Linked DNA regions of Homo sapiens: region 2 is linked to region 1. Evidence: fine-mapped expression QTL. A gene starts in region 1. The other region holds a variant in brackets. All regions are shown on one strand. Distances are between the middles of the regions. Region 1 holds the start of SCMH1 (Scm polycomb group protein homolog 1). Region 2 overlaps SCMH1 (Scm polycomb group protein homolog 1).

Evidence for each region. PIP is the estimated chance that this variant, and not a neighbour inherited with it, causes the effect. A credible set is the group of variants that fine-mapping cannot tell apart.
Region 2: its variant is the best candidate, but not a certain one, in a credible set for the expression of SCMH1 in whole blood (INTERVAL, PIP 0.76).

Annotation. Positions count from the first base shown.
Region 1 is chr1:41,238,299-41,247,505 of GRCh38, forward strand. It overlaps SCMH1 (Scm polycomb group protein homolog 1), which reads right to left and starts at 4,008. Exons shown (of 16, transcript NM_001394311.1): 1 at 3,761-4,008. It overlaps SCMH1-DT (SCMH1 divergent transcript), which reads left to right and starts at 4,060. Exons shown (of 3, transcript NR_186015.1): 1 at 4,060-4,408. RefSeq lists an enhancer at 2,569-2,748 and silencers at 3,069-3,228, 3,329-3,878, 3,919-4,318.
Region 2 is chr1:41,116,238-41,125,444 of GRCh38, forward strand. SCMH1 (Scm polycomb group protein homolog 1) reads right to left here. Exons shown (of 16, transcript NM_001394311.1): 7 at 685-773. Among named protein-coding and RNA genes, the nearest start is that of SLFNL1, 99 kb to the left of the region's middle. The variant A/T (reference allele first, on the strand shown) is at 5,503.

The DNA.
Region 1 (9,207 bases):
ATTCAATATGAGGTATGTGCCCTCCCACTTTCCAAGACTAAGAACAGACTCTTCAGAGCAAACAGAATGATTAATATGAGTCCTGAATAAAGATAGAGATCAGAACTCTGCTTCCAGGAAGGAAAAGTAAAAAAACTATTACCTTCTCACTCTTGTGTTTAAAAACCCCTCCTCCTTCAAGGTTTGCACCATCTGGCTATATAACTCTCTACCCCACCTCCTCATCTGTCATCTACCACCCTCCTGATTAATCCCCTATCTTTACTGCACCTGGGTCACATCTTTCTCTCTTCCCCACATCCCATCATCCTCAATCACTTCACTCTCTACACAGATGACTCATTCAATACACTAGCCTCCAAATTCCTTGTCATACTCAGCTTTACTGACCTTCGCCTCTGCTGTATTTTAGCTACCCATACACAGAGACCTCGCTGTCACCTAGAACAGTCCCAATATCAGACAACTTAACTCCGATATTCCACTTTCTGACCACACCTCTTTTTTTTCTCAGCTTACTTCCACTATATTTGCTCACTGATCTAACTCAAGAAATTGAAAATCTTCAAGTCCAGAATTGAACTCATCATCGTTTCCTGTCTCAGTTAAAATTACCAACATATCCTCCTTAGTCATCCAAGGCAAAAACCTGAGCATCACACGGGACTCCTCACCCTCTCACCTGCACATACAATCAATCATTAAAGCCTTATACATTTTCTCAGATTCATTTCTTTCTCTTCATCCCTATGACCACATTTTAAAAATGTTACTTCAACCATGTCTGATAGACACCTTCCAGTGATTAAATAAAAATAAAAAAAAAACACCTACTGAATTGATTTTAGGATACTTATGCATACAAGGTCCACCACGACATGGCCTCTGACTGTATTTCCAGCCTTACAACTCATCACTTATTGTTATATTCCTAGCAGTCCCAAACTGTTTGTGGTTCTCTACGCAAGCCATTCCTTTTCTCACATTGATGCCTTTGCTCAAGCTGTTTTCTCTGTTTGAAGGACGCTTTCTGCTCATGTTTGCCTCACTTACTCCTACCTACCATTTAAGATTTGGGTCAGATATCATCTCTTCCCAAAGCCTTCCTTTAACTCCTAGGCTAGTCTAAGTGCCCTCACCTTTGGGCAACCTTTACTCTCACCTTGTATATCTCAGCTATGCGTAGTTCTCATCTTTTATTCTGAGATAATCTATTTAAGCATCTAATTTACCAGCTCCACAAGATTGGAAATCTTTGTAAACCCAGCTGAGCACAGTACATAGCATAGTGCTTGACCCATAGTAGGTACATAAGTGTACAGTGAAGGTTAGAACATACCAATTTTCTTTTCTTTTTTAAAAGATGGGGTCTCATTCTGTCACTTGCTATGGCGTGATCATGGCTCACTGAAGCCTCAAACTCCTTGACTCAAACGGTCCTCCTGCCTCAGCCTCCTGAGTAGCTGAGACTACAGACATACACCATCATGCCCAGCTATATTTTTATTTTTATTTTTTGTAGAGACAGGGTCTTGCTACGTAGCCCAGGCTGGTCCAGAACTCCTGGCCTCAAAGAGTTGCCTGCCTCAGCTTCCCAAAGTGCTGGGATTATAGGCATGAGCCCCTGCATCCAGCCCTAAGTTTAAATTTTCAGTGGGATATTCACATCAATTCTTTCTCATAGTTAAGTATCCTCTACCTTTCACTCCAAGTCCTTTGCAAGGAAGGAATCAGGGCCTTTCCTCTGGATCTGTATAGTTCCATTGAGAATGGTGCTATGCAAATGTTTACCCAACTTACATAAAAGGGAACAACATTTGCACAAACATACCTAAAATCAAAACTTGACATATGTGCTACAAAGTTCAAAACTATTGACCAATTTAAAAAATGAAGGCTTAAGAACAAAAATAAAGAACCAATTCTGACTGCTGGTATGTGCTTGTCTAAGTTGTAAAAACACTGAAACTTTGCTTAGTACTTAAACAGGATCCCAGATGTAAGAGCCTGGCCTTTTATCTACAAGGCCATCTCATCTCTACTGGGCTTAAAACATTACTAACCTGCAGAGTTGCTTAGGCAAGAGTTTAGGAGGTTGGTAAGTAAGCAACAAAAAGTGTTCTCTTTCATAGTAATTTTGGGCCTCCTGCTGGCAGTTAGAACTAGAGCAAAGAGTTCAATGTAATAAAGCATTTCCCTCTGCAACCAAATATTAAAATTGCAGTTTGGCACTAAACTAGGTCTCAATCCTTTTCAGAGTTTAAAAAAAAAAAAAGAGCTATTCTATTTGCCTGGCACATTACACTTCAACAAAACATTTTGATGTACATTAGTTAGCAACATTTGATAAAGTGTTTATAGACATTTTTTAAAAGGAAGGAAACCCCCAAATTTCCACAAAATAAGATGTCTTTTAGTTTGTTTGAACAAACACTACTAAATGTTTTCTTTTTTTTTTTTTTTTAAGTTCAAAATACAGTACAGAAATGAGGAAGGGAATCTAGAGTACTTTTGATTTAAGCAGGTCAATCCTTGGGGCTGTTTCTTAGAGAAACTTACTACGTTTTGTCTCCAGGATCACTTTTAAGAAACTCTCCTTTAAGGGGATGGGGGAAACTAAAGCTCATCCAGAGGACAGTTTAGAGAACCACAGCAGATGAGAGACAACTGAAGAAAGTGGAAGTGAAGACTCAGGGGACATGATTACTATCTTCAGATATCTTAACAGCTTCCCATAAGGGAAAAGAACTAGGAAGGATGGGAGCCAGCTGTTTCTTTCAACTTATAACCAAATGTGTCCAGGAACAGAATGGGTTTCCTTTAAAGAGATTCGCTTCGGATCACTGGAAGAGGTTCCAAACGGGCTCGTCAAATTATCGGGGGGATTTGGGGATTTTCAAAGTCACTTTGGCATGGGATGGGAGAAAGCGCCCCTAGATGACTTTTAAATTCTCTTCCAGTCAGGAGATATTCCGGGGTTCACCCATCGGCTGGATACCACTTTCGATGCTCTCGGGCTGGCACACAACTGTGCCCACGTGTCTGGCCCCCAGGGCCGCTGTGGCTCACTTCGGTGCGGGGCCGCTCTCCCTGCCCGTTTCCGGCGGGGCACTGGGGCAGGCGGCACACGTGAGTCGGCCAGCCGGGGCCCAGCCCCCAGGACGCTGCTGACAGCTCCGGGCCCTAGGCGCCCCAGCTCTCGGTGGGGGCCACGCCGCCCCGTCGACCTCTGTCTCTGCCTTCCCCGAACCGGGACCCGGCCAGCCAGAATCACAGGCATTCCCACCTCTGGCGCCGGAGGGGACCGACTGACCCGCGCAGACGGGGTCGCGCCGCCGCCCGGCCCTCGGCCCCCAGCCAGCCTGCCCCGGCCCACCCGGCCCCGCCGGCCAGACACGGCGACCTATACGGACCGCCCCCACGCCGACCCTCCAAAGGGCCCCCGGCCTTGGGTTTCCCGTGCCGGGGCCCCCGGGCAGTCCTGGCGGCGTCAGGGCCGCGACCGGACCGTGGGCCCCGCCCGCCCGACCGCAGATGCAGAGCCGGCCTCCGGGCTCGGGGCCGGGCTGACACGGCCGAGAAAGGGCCCAGCCCCGCGCGGACCACAGACTGGCAGGCCGGCCAGACAGACGGACAGGCTGACCCCGGCCCGGGGGAGCAGGCGCAGCGGCTGCGCAGGTCCCGCCACCGCCTTCTGGCCCCAGGCGGCCCCTCAGGGCACGAGCTCTTAGGCGGGCGGAGGCGGCCGCGAGGCGCTTACCTGAGGGCGCGGCGGGGGCGCGGGGCGGCTCACTCTCTTCCCGCCGCCATGTTTCCGCTGCGCAGGGAGGGAGCGGAGACGCGGGAAGGGGGCGGGCGGGCGGCTCGGGAGAGCGGCGGGCGGGCGGCGGGGGGCTCCACCGAGCTGGCGGTGGCGGCTGAGGCGGGGGGCGGGGCGGGGGCTCCCCCGGCCCCTCCCCCGCGCCTCCCGCTGCGAGGTGGCGCGCGCCTCGGCCGTTGGGCTCGCGCGGGGGGCGGGGCGGCGCGCTGGAGGAGGGAGGGCGCGCGGGAACCCGGCCCGGCCGTACCCCGCCGGCCTGCCGACCCGGGTCCGGGGGCCCAGTTGGCGCCCGGACCAGCTCTCCGGTCTGCGTCCTGTAGATGGGAAAACTGAGGCCTGAGAGGGCGCGAGGGCGGGGACGAGGCCGAGGACTCGGGTTCGAATCTCGAGGACGCCAGTAGCCCGCTCTGAGGCCGCGTGGGGCTGGTGGAGGAGCCACCGGTCGGGCCCCCAAGACCGGCTGACGTGGGCCTCGCCTCGGGCGACTCCCGCCGGGCTAGTGGCTGGCCGTGTGGTGACCTTGGGCGAGTTACTTCGCACAGCCACCCAGGGGCCTCTTCTCCAACACGATAGCACTGCACCCGGAGGGTAGGTGAGAGATGAGTTGGTGCTTGGATGCCCTAGGGAGTGTCAGCGTCCTCGGTCCTCCCTGTGGTGATCCCTTCAACGAGTACGCACTGAGCCCGTGATGGGCCAGGTACAATGCACAGGCTCATTCTTCCAGGCCCACCAGCCATGTTGGCTACACAATTCTATTTTTGTTTTGTTAGAGATGGAGCCTCACTTTGTCCCCAAGGTCGGAGTGCAGTGGCGCCATCATAGCTCACTGTAACCTCAAATTACTGGGCTCAAGTGATCCTCCTGCGTCAGCCTCCCAAAGCGCTGGGACTACAGGCGTGAGCCACTGCGCCTGGCACACAATTGGTTTAACCACCACATCATTTTAGCAGCTTAGGAAACTGACGTCTTGACTTCTGTTTTGGCTGCTTGAAAATACAGTGCAATATAAATCCCGAGACCTCTGCTGAGCTGGATGTGGAGTGGGTGTGGGCATCATTTAGAACATGGCAATCCTCAGGTCACACAGGAATGTCTTGTTAATGATCCTTCTGTGAACAATGTTCCTTGGAGGGAAGTCCACTTAAGCAAGGCTGGAGCAGCAGATGGGGCAGCTGAGCCTGGATTACTTGCCTTGCCTCTAGAATAGGTCTTAGAGCTTTGGACTGAAGGGGGGCCGCCTCCTTGTATCCTGGTATTGGTGTCAGTATCCGTCTGCCCATTCTTGAGAAATGGAAATGGTCAGAATCTATCCAGGTTCTGATCTGCATCCCTGTTGTCTAATTTAAACTTTCATTCCATGGCGTTTTGGGGAGTACCTGTCTCATGAAGAGCCCTGAGGTTACAAGGATAATTAGAGCCTAAATCTAAGGAGCCCATATTTGGGGAAACTATTATGTCAATAGCTAATGAGAGCACAGTGTTGTAAGTGCTCATATTAGTTTTCTATTCCTGCATAACAAATTGGCACAAATTTTGCAGCTTAAAGCAACACCCATTGATTTACTCACAGTTGTGTAGGTCGGAAAACTGGCATGGTGTGGCTGGGTTTTCTGCTCGTGGTGTCATAGGCTGAAATCAAGATGTCTAGCACCTCCACGAGGGAAAGGTCTGCCCCAGGCTCCTTCGGGCTGTTGGCAGAATTCATGTCCCTGTAGGACTAGGATCCCACAGCTACACTGTTTTGCCAGCTCTCTGTTGGGGACCACTCTCAGGTCCTTGCCACGTGATCCCTTTTATCTCATCAACAGAGAACCTTTCTCATGTCACTCCCTCTCATTCTTTAAATATCTCTGATTTCCCTTCTTCAACCAGTCAGAGAACACTATGAGCTTTTAAAAGACTTGTAATTAGGTCAGACCCACCTAGATAATCTTCCTACTTTAAGATCACCTGTGCCACATCACATACCCTAATCACAGGAGTAAAATTCATCATAGCCACTGTCCCAGGGACTATGCAGAAGGTGTACATGAAGGTTAATCTAGGAAGCTACCTTAGAATTCTGCCTACTACGTCCAGTGAGAAATGTTCTCTTGAACATTTTCTCTATGAATTCCCCTAGCAGTTTGTTCTGTAACTCTGTCCATGGCACCATATATGTTGCCATTATTGGAGTATATTTCTAAACCTCTTTTCTAGGCTGAAAGCGTCTTGAGATCAGGAACCTTATTCACACCTGTAGCCTTAGATAAGGCTTGGCATGAGGGAGATATTCCCACATCTGCTAAAAATAAATAAATATTATGCATATTGTCCTTTGGATTCCTGCTTTTTTTTTTTTTTGAGATGGAGTCTCGCTCTGTCATCCAGTTTGGAGTGCAGTGGCATGATCTCGGCTCACTGCAAGCTCCATCTTCCGGGTTCACGCCATTCTCCTGCCTCAGCCTCCTGAGTAGGTGGGACTACAGGCGCCTGCCACCACGCCCAGCTAATTTTTTGTATTTTTAGTAGAGACAGCGTTTCACCATGTTAGCCAGGATGGTCTCAATCTCCTGACCTTGTGATCCGCCCTCCTTGGCCTCCCAAAGTGCTGGGATTACAGGCGTGAGCCACCACACCCAGCCTCCTGCTTCTTTTTTAGATCCAGCTCAGAACTTCTCTGACACTTCTCAGGAAGAACTCATTTCTCCCTCCTCTCCACTGTCACTTGGTAAAAATCTCTGTGTGAAATGTTTCCCATTGTAGTATTTTAAGTCAGACTGTAGTTTCCTTGAATATAGTACTTTGCTTTTATTCCACTTAATATTCCAGGGCACAGCATAATGTATTAACAGTTCTGTGCTGTTCAATTAAACAACTAATTACACATGGGTGTTATTAGTTGCTTAATGTTTGGATTTTAATAAGGGGGGTTAAAAACCAAGAGGCAACTGGAGAGTGGAATTGGGCTATGACAGACCCTGTGACCTTTGGGTTACAGGTGTGGGGAAGCCAAGAAATACAGAGGCAATGGAGAGGGAAGAAATAGGCAAGTTAATCAGGATGTAATTTTTTTTTAAAGGAGGTATGCTAGGAAACCCCAGGTCTGCTCTTTTCTACATTACATTACAGCAAAAAGGAGTGATTATTCTGGCACTGACAGAACTGACAAAAACAGTAGTTTTTGTTTTGTTTTTTGTTTTTGTTTTTTTTCATGTTGTTGATGACCCAGTAGAAGAGTTGGTAAAGGAAATGGGAAAGATGGTTTCTGATGCTTAAAGAAAGTATGTGTGTTGCGGGGTGTGGGGGGGATGCATTGAAATACATAAGAGCCTTCACCACATTAAGTCCTACACATCAATTAAGACTACCTTCCCCAGGAACTTCCTCTGATACCTTCTCTTCCATCCTCACCCCAGGATAAATTAAATGCCCCTCCTTTCGCTCTCCTTGTAGCCTGGCACCTTCATTCATCATTGCATTTACTAGGATCTGTGCATATCATTTTCATTTATGCTTATCTTTCACCTGACTGTAAGCTCCACAGATTGGAACTCTGTCTTTGTTCTTCATTACATCCACAGCACCTCGCACCATACCTGGAACACATTTGGTGATCAGTCTATATTTATAGAATGAATGTGCACAGTAGGACCCTTTCAGACCCAAGCCACAGACCAAAGAGGCAACCTCCTTATTATCTGCCTTGTGACCACAGGGCCCCACTGGCTGTTCAGATTCAGACATGTGCTGAGCCCAAACCTTGTTGTTTATCTAAGACGCTTCTGCTCTTTCTCCTCTTGTAAAATACAAAGTAAAAATAGTTCCAGGAAGCTGTGTGGTTAAGACATTCCAGTCTCTGAGCTCCTAGATAAAGGCTGTTATTGTTAGGAAGGTGGTCATTAATCCAACCTGCCTTTTCTGTATGCTTTGGTTTCACACCCTTCTAAAGGTACTGATTCTTTGTCCTCAGTTTCCCTTAAGCCTGTCACTAGCCGGTAACTGGAAAAAATAATAACTTTACAGCAGTTGATGTACGAATGATCTAAAGGTATCAGTTGATCACAAGTTTGCTTTATGCTCTGGAATTGTGACTTTAACTTATTCTCAAAGTGCCTTACCAGATGGCTTATATCCTCATCTATAAAATGGAAGAAATGACACCTACCTCACCAGATTATTGAAGACTGAAAGAAAATAAAGTAGAAAGACCTCCTGGCACACAGTAATGGCCAAGAAAACGTCATAGATTGGAATCACAGTTTGGAATCCCCTCACTTTGTTCTGCTATGGCCAGACTTTGGGCTATTGAGTTTGTCCTAGGCATTATATTTTAAAAGAGTGATGTTGACAAATTATGACCCAGAAGCAAATGACCAGATAAGGAATCTGGAAATCAGACTTTATAAGGAGCAGCTGAAAGGAGTTGGGAACATTTAGCCTGCAGAAGAAATAACTACTAATGGGAGTAGAGTGGGGTAGGGCAAGGCCTTAGAAGGGTCTTCAGATAATTGAAGGGCTAACATGTGGAAAAGGATTAGGCCTCAATTCTATTCCACACATATCTATGGAACTCCTATTATGTGCCAGGAACTGGGAATGCAAATAAATGTAAAGTACAATCCGTGTCTTTAAGGATCTCAGTCTACAAGGGACCATGACAATGCAAAAAAGGCTATTACAGAGGACTTTGCAATGTCCTCTGTAATATGGAGAAGGCAGAGGAGGGTTCATTGAGCCCAGAGATACTGGGGAAGACTTCACCAAGAAGGTGACATTTGAGTGGACCTTAAAGGAAAACTAGGACTTTTTTAGGCAGAGAAGGAGGGGAAGGACACATAGGCAGCAAGTACAGCATGAACAAAGACAAAAAGGCATCCTCATGGAAAACCTAGGATGCATCGGAAAAGAAGAGGGAAGTGAGCCTGCAATATTTGACTGGAGCCAGATTGTCAAGGGCCTTGATTATTAGCTAAAGAGCTTGGACTATTTACCTTGAGTGGGTATTGAACTATTTACCTTGAGTGGGTATTGAAGAGCCATCAAAGGCCTTTAAGCAGATTTTTATTTTAAAAGGAAATCTCTAGCACAGCTTGCTGAAAGAGCTACACTGAAGAGAGATAGGAGGCAGGGAAGACAAGGCCTCTCAGCATACCAAAGAGAGTCCATGGACTTGACTCTTCCACTGACCATGGGTAAATTTGGGCACATTATTTAAACTTTCTGAACTATTTTTTTTTTTTTAGTTTGTAAATTGAACATCTACTTTATAGGGATGTTTCAGGAATCAAGTGAGGTAACATATCCAAGACTCTCACATGTGTCTGGTACACAAACGGTGCTCAGTAAGTGAACACCATTCCCTTCCTTCCCTTTCTCTTAATGGACAGAGTAGACAGAGAAACAGA
Region 2 (9,207 bases), 120 kb before region 1:
AGCAGGATGCTCTTAGTGTTGAGACTTAACTAGCAGCATAGGCAAACCTAATTTAATACCCTTTACAGTAACTTTTACCCCATTAGAAAATTCAACTGATAGACTCACTGCCTCACTTCTTGAGAAGCAATAACAAATACAGGTTTTGGATCCCTGTTCTGCCGCTTACTAGCCACGTGATCTTGAGCAAGCTCCTAATTCAAAAGTATTTGTTTCCTTAACTATTAAATGGAAATAATAATTCTTAGTTCATAAAGTTAGCTGTGGGTATTACATGAGATAGTATATATAAAGTCCCAAACATATCGTAGGCAATAAAAAAAGTCTCCTTCTTTTCTCTGTTTAGAACATGAACTCTACAGAACTCCAAGATCTATAATAAGAATAGCGCCTTTAGATTTGTATTACATTTAACATATTCTACTAATAATACATTTTAACTTCTTAACAAGCCCGACAGGTAAACAGAGATTACTGGAAGCTGGGACCATATAATCTAATCTATGGGACCTTATAGTCTAATATATTCCTCTGGGGATAATTGCTGCTTCATAAGCTACTAAAAAATCCTTCTGAACTAATTTCTGAGAAGGCATCTTCAGGCCATAAGTAAATGTGGACATCAAAGTCTCAATATTTGACCTTAAGCAGCCTGGAGCTGGTGATATCTGAGGGATAGCCTACCTTGTGGAAAATCCTGATGGGAGCCATCTCTGCTCCATTTAGCGTCTTCAAAAGGAACATGGGCCAAGAAGACGCATTCAGCCGAAATCCTGCAGCAAGCATAATGGGCAACAGATTAAAAGTATGTTTCAAAAATGAATGGTGATGTGGGTGGCAAGCCACCCAGGTGCCGAGGCAAGAGACCGAGGGCACGAGCTCTTCCAGTATAATAAAATATATAAAATAAGAATAGTTATACTAGATATAGATCATAGATATGATTATATATGAATATCATTCATCATTAGTTTGTAGCAATTATTCTTTATTCCAATATTATAATAATCCTCGCTCTACAATCATAACCTAGGAAAAACCAGGCCATACAGAGATAGGAGCTGAGGGGACATAGTGAGAAGTGACCAGAAGACAAGAGTGCGAGCCTTCTGTTATGCCCGGACAGGGCCACCAGAGGGCTCCTTGGTCTAGCGGTAACACCAGCGTCTGGGAAGACGCCCGTTGCCAAGCGGACCGTGGTCTAGTGGTAGCGTCAGTGTCAAGGAAAAACACCCATTACTTAGAGACCGGGAAAGGGAGTCACCCTTTCCCCGGGGAAGTTTAGAGAAGACTCTACTCCTCCACCTCTTGCGGAGGGCCTGACGTCAGTCAGGCCCGCCTGCAGTTATCCAAAGGTCTAACTGTCTCCCTGTGATGCTGTGCTTCAGTGGTCATGTTCCTAGTTCGCCTTCATGTTCCATCCTGTACACCTGGCTCTGCCTTTTAGTTAGCAGTAGCAAATTAGTGAAAGTACTAAAAGTCTCTGATTAGTAGAAATAATGGCGTAAGCTGTCTCTCTCTCTCTCCTCTCTCTCTCTCTGCCTCGGCTGCCAGGCAGGGAAGGGCCCCCTGTCCAGTGGACACGTGACCCACGTGACCTTACCTATCATGGGAGACGGCTCACACTCCTTACCCTGCCCCTTTGTCTTGTATCCAATAAATATCAGCGCAGCCTGGCATTCAGGGCCACTACTGGTCTCTGTGTCTTGGTGGCAGTGGTCCCCCTGGGCCCAGCTGTCTTTTATCTCTTCGTCTTGTGTCTTTATTTCTACACTCTCTTGTCTCCGCACACAGGGAGAAAACCCACCAACCCTGTGGGGCTGGACTCTACATTATGATATCAAGTTCAGCCTTTAGAATCCAGCTACTCCTATGCTGTGATAGTTACAGAATCACAGACTGTTAAGAAAGGACTTAAGGGTTAAAAAGGAGAAACACCTCATTAGACAGATGAAGAAAATGAGGCACATAAGAGAGAATGTAACTTGTCCAAGGTAATGCTGTAAAGTAAATAGTGGGACAGAGTCTCCAAACCAAGTTTCCTAAGACAAGTACTACAGAACACATAACGTAATGCCTAGAAAACTTTCTAGGCATTTGAAAAATCCAAAAAAGATGTGATAGGATTAACGAATACTTAGAGATGATCTGGACAGTAGAGTATGAAAGGGGATCTAATAATCTCTTAAGAAGAAACCAAACATGTCAACCGATAAACCCAATATATAAGTAAATCATTTTGGTTCCTCTCAATGTAAACTAACTCACTACTTCTCTTATCACTTTCTGTCTTGCACACATACACACACCAAGTACAAAATACTTTCTGAAGTTCATTGTTTACTTAAACAACTAAGGACCAAGGAATGACATTGGAAAGGATTGTCCTATCCAAAAATCTTCATTTTGCAAAAGAGTAAAAAGAAGCCTAGAGAGGTTAACTGTCCATTATCACCTATCAATGAATTGTAAAAATAAGATCATTATTACAGTTAGGTCTTCCAATTAGAGCCCCAAGTGCTTCTTTCAATTTGCTTCAACTCTGCATCCTGAGATAACAAAACCTAATGTTTTTTGAGCATTTCCCAAACTACCTCAGCCTTCCCACTCCAAACAAAAGAACAGATAAGCTGCACCCAAGCTGCAAAGCTGGAAATAACAGCAGCAGCAGTATCTGATGTTATTGAGCACTTTACTGTTCACTATGCCAATCACTTTCTATTGACTATCTAATCCTCAAGACAGCCCTAGGAGGTAGATATTATCTTCATTTTATAGATGAGGAAACAGGTACAATTTATTTGAAGTTAAATAAATTGCTTAAGATTTCAAAGTGAGCAAACGAAAAGACAGGATTAAAATTCAGGCAATCTGACTCCTGAGCCCACACTTTAAAACTGGCAATGTATGGGTAAAATGAAAAGGGAAGATTCAGCTTTTGGAAAAAAGTATCAATTAACAACTGTAATTAAAGTTAGGAGGAGGAGGTGACAAGGAAATGCAAATAAAAAAAGAGTTACCACTCCATACTATTTAAACTTTTAGTCCCAAAGCTGGCTAGGCTAAGCCAGCCTTCCCAAGGTAAAGAGATTTCTTGGGACAGCCCATCCATATCAACAGCAATGTGGACTTTCCTATCACTCAATCTAAAACTGCCATCACTTCCTTTTTGCTTGCCCAGCTTTTTTTTCCCTTTAGGGCAAAAAAAAAACAAAAAAAAAAAAACCCCACCGTAACTCCACATGATTTGGTGGGCACGTCAACCACATATGTGGTCCTTACCTACCTGGCCTTGGGGTAAAACACAATGCTGTTTAAGAGCATCAAATTCCCCTAGACCAAGAGTGTATATGTGTCTATGTCCCATGTTAGGCCAGTTGTTTTTTGACATGAGATTGACGTTGGAGAAGAACATCTTTCTTTGTCTGAGAACATGCCCATAAGGATGTTTGCAGTTTGGGCACTGCTACATGGAGAACAGACCTGAGAATAAAGCCAAAGTACAGCATGGGATGGAGACACATAATAGTGTTTAAAACCCAGTACTCAGACACTCAACACCAGATAAATCCTTGGACTTCTTGGTTATATGAGTTAATAATTCCTGCCTCCTCCTTTTTTCCCTCTCTAATCTGGTTTGAGCTGGGTTTTTAACTGCTACTCTTCTTTTGACAATGGTTTAAAAAAATTAAATCCCTCCAGAAATTCAAGCGTGGTGTTTATGTGGGAAAACAACTCTCCTTAGGTCAGGGAAGGGCTGAAGCAAGCCAAACCCAGAGCAGCTTTGCCATGAGTGGTTTGGTACACCTATGGATAAGGTAAAGCAAGGCACTACTGTTTTAGAGAAGTGGTCTATACACCTTGGTATAGGGAGGCCTGCACAATTAGAAAATTCAGGTTTAATGCCTATAGTTATCAATGACTAGAGTGCCTAGCCATGTAATTCCCAATTCCATTTTTGAGGTAGGGGTTACTGGGGGGTTTCTATCTCATCTGAAGCTTAAGGAGCTAAAAAATCCTCTCAGCTTTGGAAATCATTACAATATTATCATAATAGTTAATATATATTGAATGCTTACCATGTATTAAACATTTTATATGCCATTTCTTACTCAATATTTGAAATAACATGGGCAGGCACTATTATTATCCCTACTCTACAGATGATAAAAAATGAAAACTCAGAGAAGCAGCTTGTCTAGGGTCATGCTAGTAAATGCCGGAGACAGATTTCAATATATGGTGGTTGGATACCAAACTTTGTGGTTCTTTACTATGTTTCACTACCAGCAGGATTCTTCAAGAGTACAGGGGCAAAGCAGAAATATTTTGAACCCAAGAAATTGCTAAGGTATCTTATTCCTCAATCCGCTAGGTGATGTGGGACTCTATCCCTTCAAATTCAAGTATATCCATAATTTACCTCAATATTCTTGGGCAATCATAGATAGTAGATAATTTTAACATTGAAAGGGACCTCAGAGGCCATGAAGTACAAAGATCTTACATTGCAGATGATGAAACTGAAGTCCAGAGAGGCTAAGAAACTTGTTCATGGTCACACAAGCCAATCTTACACTGTCAGGCTGGAACCCCAGGACTTCTTATTTGGTTCTCTTTTATTACACTATGTTTATTACACTATCTCTTTTATTACACTATGTTGCCTCCAAAAGTTAACATTTATTGTACACATATCATGAGCCAGCTCCTTGTGCTAAGCATTTGCAGTGGATCACTACTACTATTCTGAATCAGATACTAGAGGAGTAGCAGTTTCTGGTGCCAGACTGCCTGAATTTAAATCCAGCTTTGCCACTTACCAGGTACATAACTTTTGGAAAATTACAAAACCTCTCTCTAGCTTCAGTTTCCTCAACAACAGCATGGGATAAGAATCAATGGGTTGTTCTAAAGATTAAATAGGCTAATACATGCAAAGGACTTAAAACACTGCCTGGCATACAGGCAGGAGTTAGATAAACATTGGCTATTATTTTTGTAACTATAGATGAAAAAACTGAGGCTTAGAGAAATTAAGTAAAATATCCAAAGTTAGTAAGTTAGTAAATAGCAGAGCCAGGATTTGAACCCAACTACTCCGTCTCCAGAGCTTTCATAACTAATCATCACATTAATATCGTCAAATATTTTATCACTCAGTCCTACCACACTGTCTCTAGGTAAGAAGGGTTGGAGTCATAAACTTGTGAAAGAGAGAAAAGAAGGAAGATGAAAACAGTAATTTGAGGCTCTATTCAAATTAGGCAACGACCTAGGCTGTCTATAAGGAAAAGGACAGGTGGGTAAGAGGAAATCCTAATCTCTAAATGTAGAGCACCTCAGTGCTCAGTCATTGCTTCTGTCTTCTTCTTGGTCCCCACTTTCTTCCTGTTAAATGATGACTGTCAATTTATATATCTAGCCAAAACCTCTGCTCAGGGTTTCATGTTCATATATCCAACTACCTCAGTCTATAACTCTACTTGGATGTCTAAGAAA[A/T]CGTAAAATGAATAAGTTTAAGACAGTACTCTTGATTCTACTATTCCCTCCAAACTTGTTCTTTCCTCCAGTTATCCCATCTCAGTTTAATAGGTGGCACCCCTTATTAAACCCAGGTGCTCAGACCTAAAAGACTAGAAGTCATCCTTGATTCTTCCCTTTCTATCACCCACCAAACCCAATTAATCAGCAAGTCTTGATGGCTTTCCCACTTAATATATGCTAGATCGACCCACATTTCACCATCTCTACTGCTATATTACCCTAATTTAAGCCAGAGTCAAACTTTGCCTAGACAACTCCAACAGCCTTCTAACTGGACCTCAGCCCTCTACTTTTGCAGCCAGAATAATATGGTTATGTTTTTAAAAATATAAATCAGGTCACATTACCTTATGCTCAAATTTCACAACACAAAACAGATCTAAACTCTTTATTATTCATGTTTACAAGGCTTACATGATCTGGACCTTGCTTACTCCTCATTACTCATCTCTTATCACTCCCTTGTACCCCTATTCATTGGTCTTTCTGTTCTCAAATATACCAAGCTGTTTCCCTCTGCCTCAAACACCTTTTAATCAACTCTTTACAGTTAGTTATTTGCTGAGACATCACTTCCTCAGAAAGGTGTTCCTTGACTACTTTACCCAAAATAGACTCCTAAATCTATCCTGCTTCCTTCTTATTTATTCCTAGCCCCTATCACCATCTGAATTTTCTTTTTAAAAAGTTTAATGTGTATGTCTTCTCCAACTAGAATACAAAATCCTTGATAGTTTTATTGAATTAAGGAAAAAACCCTCCATTTATTAAATGGGTGCCAAGAATTGATGAACGCTTTATTATGTTATTCCACTTAATCCACAAAAACAACATGGGGAAGAATTTATTAATCATCTTGCAGGTAAGGGCACTGAAACTCAACGTTACAAGTCAAGGTAAAGCAACTTACCAGTAGTCACACAACTAAGGTAGTGAGTGGCTAAGTTAATATTACAAAGTCAGATCTCTTTTAATTCCAAACACAGGCTGCAAGTGCTCTGTGTTTACCAAGGATTCATTTTTTAAAACTTCATAAAGAACCACTTCTAAAGTGCTTCTAGGTGCTCCCAAGACTATGGGACCACTGGATAAGCTAGGGTCCATCTCTTTAAACTGGCCAGCTGATGAAACTGGATTTAAGAGTGGAGCTGCAGGCCGGGCACAGTGGCTTTCACCTGTAATCGCAGCATTTTGGGAGACTGACGCAGGAGGATCACTTCAGCCCAAAATTTAAAGACCAGCCTGGGCAACACAGTGAGACCCTGTTTCTACAAAAAATACAAAAAATTAGCTGGGTGTGGTGGTGTGTGCTTGTAGTCCCAGCTACGTGGAAGGCTCATGCAGGATGACTGCTGTAGCCTGGGGATGTCGAGGCTGCAGTGAGCTATGATTGTGACGCTGCATTCCAGCCTGAGTGACACAGCGAGACTCTGCCTCAATACATACATACATACATGTGGAGCAGCAGGACTATAATCTAATCATAGTCCATGCCCTCTGGTGGCAGGTAACAGAAGAGCATTCACACCAGGAATTGATCAGTGACAGAAACATACAAAGGATTCCTTTGAAGTTACTGTATATACTAAAGCATGTGACCAAATTTGCTGGGTAAGCAGTTTACACTGAGATCGTGACTCACTTGACTAGGGGCCTCATTAAAGGCTAGCTTCTACTCCAGCTCAGTGACTCTCAAACTTGGACTGGAATCCCCTAGGGAACATTAAAGAATACATCAGATCCACTCCCAGAAATCCCTATTTAACTGATCTGAAGTTAAGGCCTAGACCCTGAAAATTTTAAGAGCTCCCTAGGTGATTTTAACAGGTAGCCAAGTTTGAGAACTATGCTCTAGACAGCCCTCTTTAGAAGAAACAATCACAGTATTAAGTAGAAGAATCAGTCAGTAATAACAGGGAGCTGTGAGGAGAAGAGTGGCAGCTTTGAGATAACTGAGGAGAATCATTCTACTCTACTACATGTTTTATCCTTGGAGGACTCCACTGCAAAAGAGTAATATCCCTTATGAGAACAGAACACACATACGTATACATATACACCATGCAAGATTTTAATGGAAAAGGATGCTCTTCCAGAGCAATGTTTTCCAAATATAGACCAGTTGTGTCAGTATCTCAGGAGAGCCATTTTGCCATGCAGAATCCCAAGCCCCATTACCTAGAGCTTCTGATTCAGCAACTCTAGAAAGAAGTCCAGAGAAGGCCTGGGGAACATGGACACACAAACATATGTACAATTATATATAAATAATTTTATTTTTTTAATTTTATTTTGAAAAGTTATAAACCTAGAGAAAATAGCAAAAACTATATAATGAACAATTATGTACCCTTCAACTAGATTCAACAACTATTACCATTTTCCCACATCTGCTTTTCATCTACATATATTAATGCTTCCACCCCTGAACTATATGAAAGTTGGAGATGTTACGACACTTCACCCCTAAATATATCAGTATATTTGAAAAAAGACATTCCCCTACAAAATTGCAGTATTATCACACTCAGGAAATTTAATTAAAAATATTCTCATTTGTCCCTAAAATGTTCTTTAAAACTGTTGATTTTTAAATACAGGATCCAATCAAGAATCACATACTGCAATTGGTTGTCATGTTTCTTCAGTCTCCTTTAATGTAGAATTCATGTATAATAGTCCTGTTGCCTTTTGTTTGCTTTGTATGACACTGACATTTTTGAAGAGTCTGGATTGTTTTACAGAATGTCCCACAGTTTGGACTTCTTCTGATCGTTTCCTCATAATTACATTCATGCTGAAGAGCTTATTTATTTATTTATTTATTTATTTATTTATTTTGAGACAGGGTCTTTCTCTGTTGCCCAGGCTGGTGTGCAGTGGTGCAATCATGGCTCACAGCAGCCTTCAACTCCTGGGCTCAGGTGATCCCCCTGAGCAACTAGGACTAAGGGTGTGCACCACCACACCTGGCCAATTTTTCTATTTTTTGTAGTGATGGGGGACTTGCTATATTGCCCAGGCTGGTCTTGAATTTCTGGCCTCAAGTAATCATTCCGCCTCAGCCTCCCAAAGTGCTGGCTCTGATTACAGGCATAAACTGCTAGGCCTGGCCTGCTAAAGAGATTTGATAAAAAATATTATACAGGTGATGTGGAGTATTTCTCATTGCAATACTGCAGGAGGCACATAATGTCAGTTTGTCTAATTACTGAAGATACAAAATTTGATCACATGTTAAGAGGTGATTGACAGTGTTCTTCACTGTAATTTCCCTTTGTAATTTACAGGCAATCAGTGGAGAGAAACTTTGAGACTGTGAACATCCTATTCCTCAGTATGTTTTTTTACCTAATAGTTTAAGCATTTATTGGTTACTCTTGCCTGACTCAATTATTAAAATAGTTGCAAAAAAGTAATTTTCTCTCATTCCTTCTATATATTTTTTTTAGACAGGGTTTTGCTTTGTCCCCCAGGCTGAAATTCAGTGGCGAGATCTCCGCTCACTGCAGCCTAGACTTCCCGGGCTCAGCTGATTCTTCCTTTTCAGCCTCCTGAGTAGCCGGCACTACAGGTGTGTGTCATCATGCCCAGATAATTTTTGTATTTTTTTGTAGGGACAGAGTTTCACCATGTTGCCCAGGCTGGTCTCAAACTCCT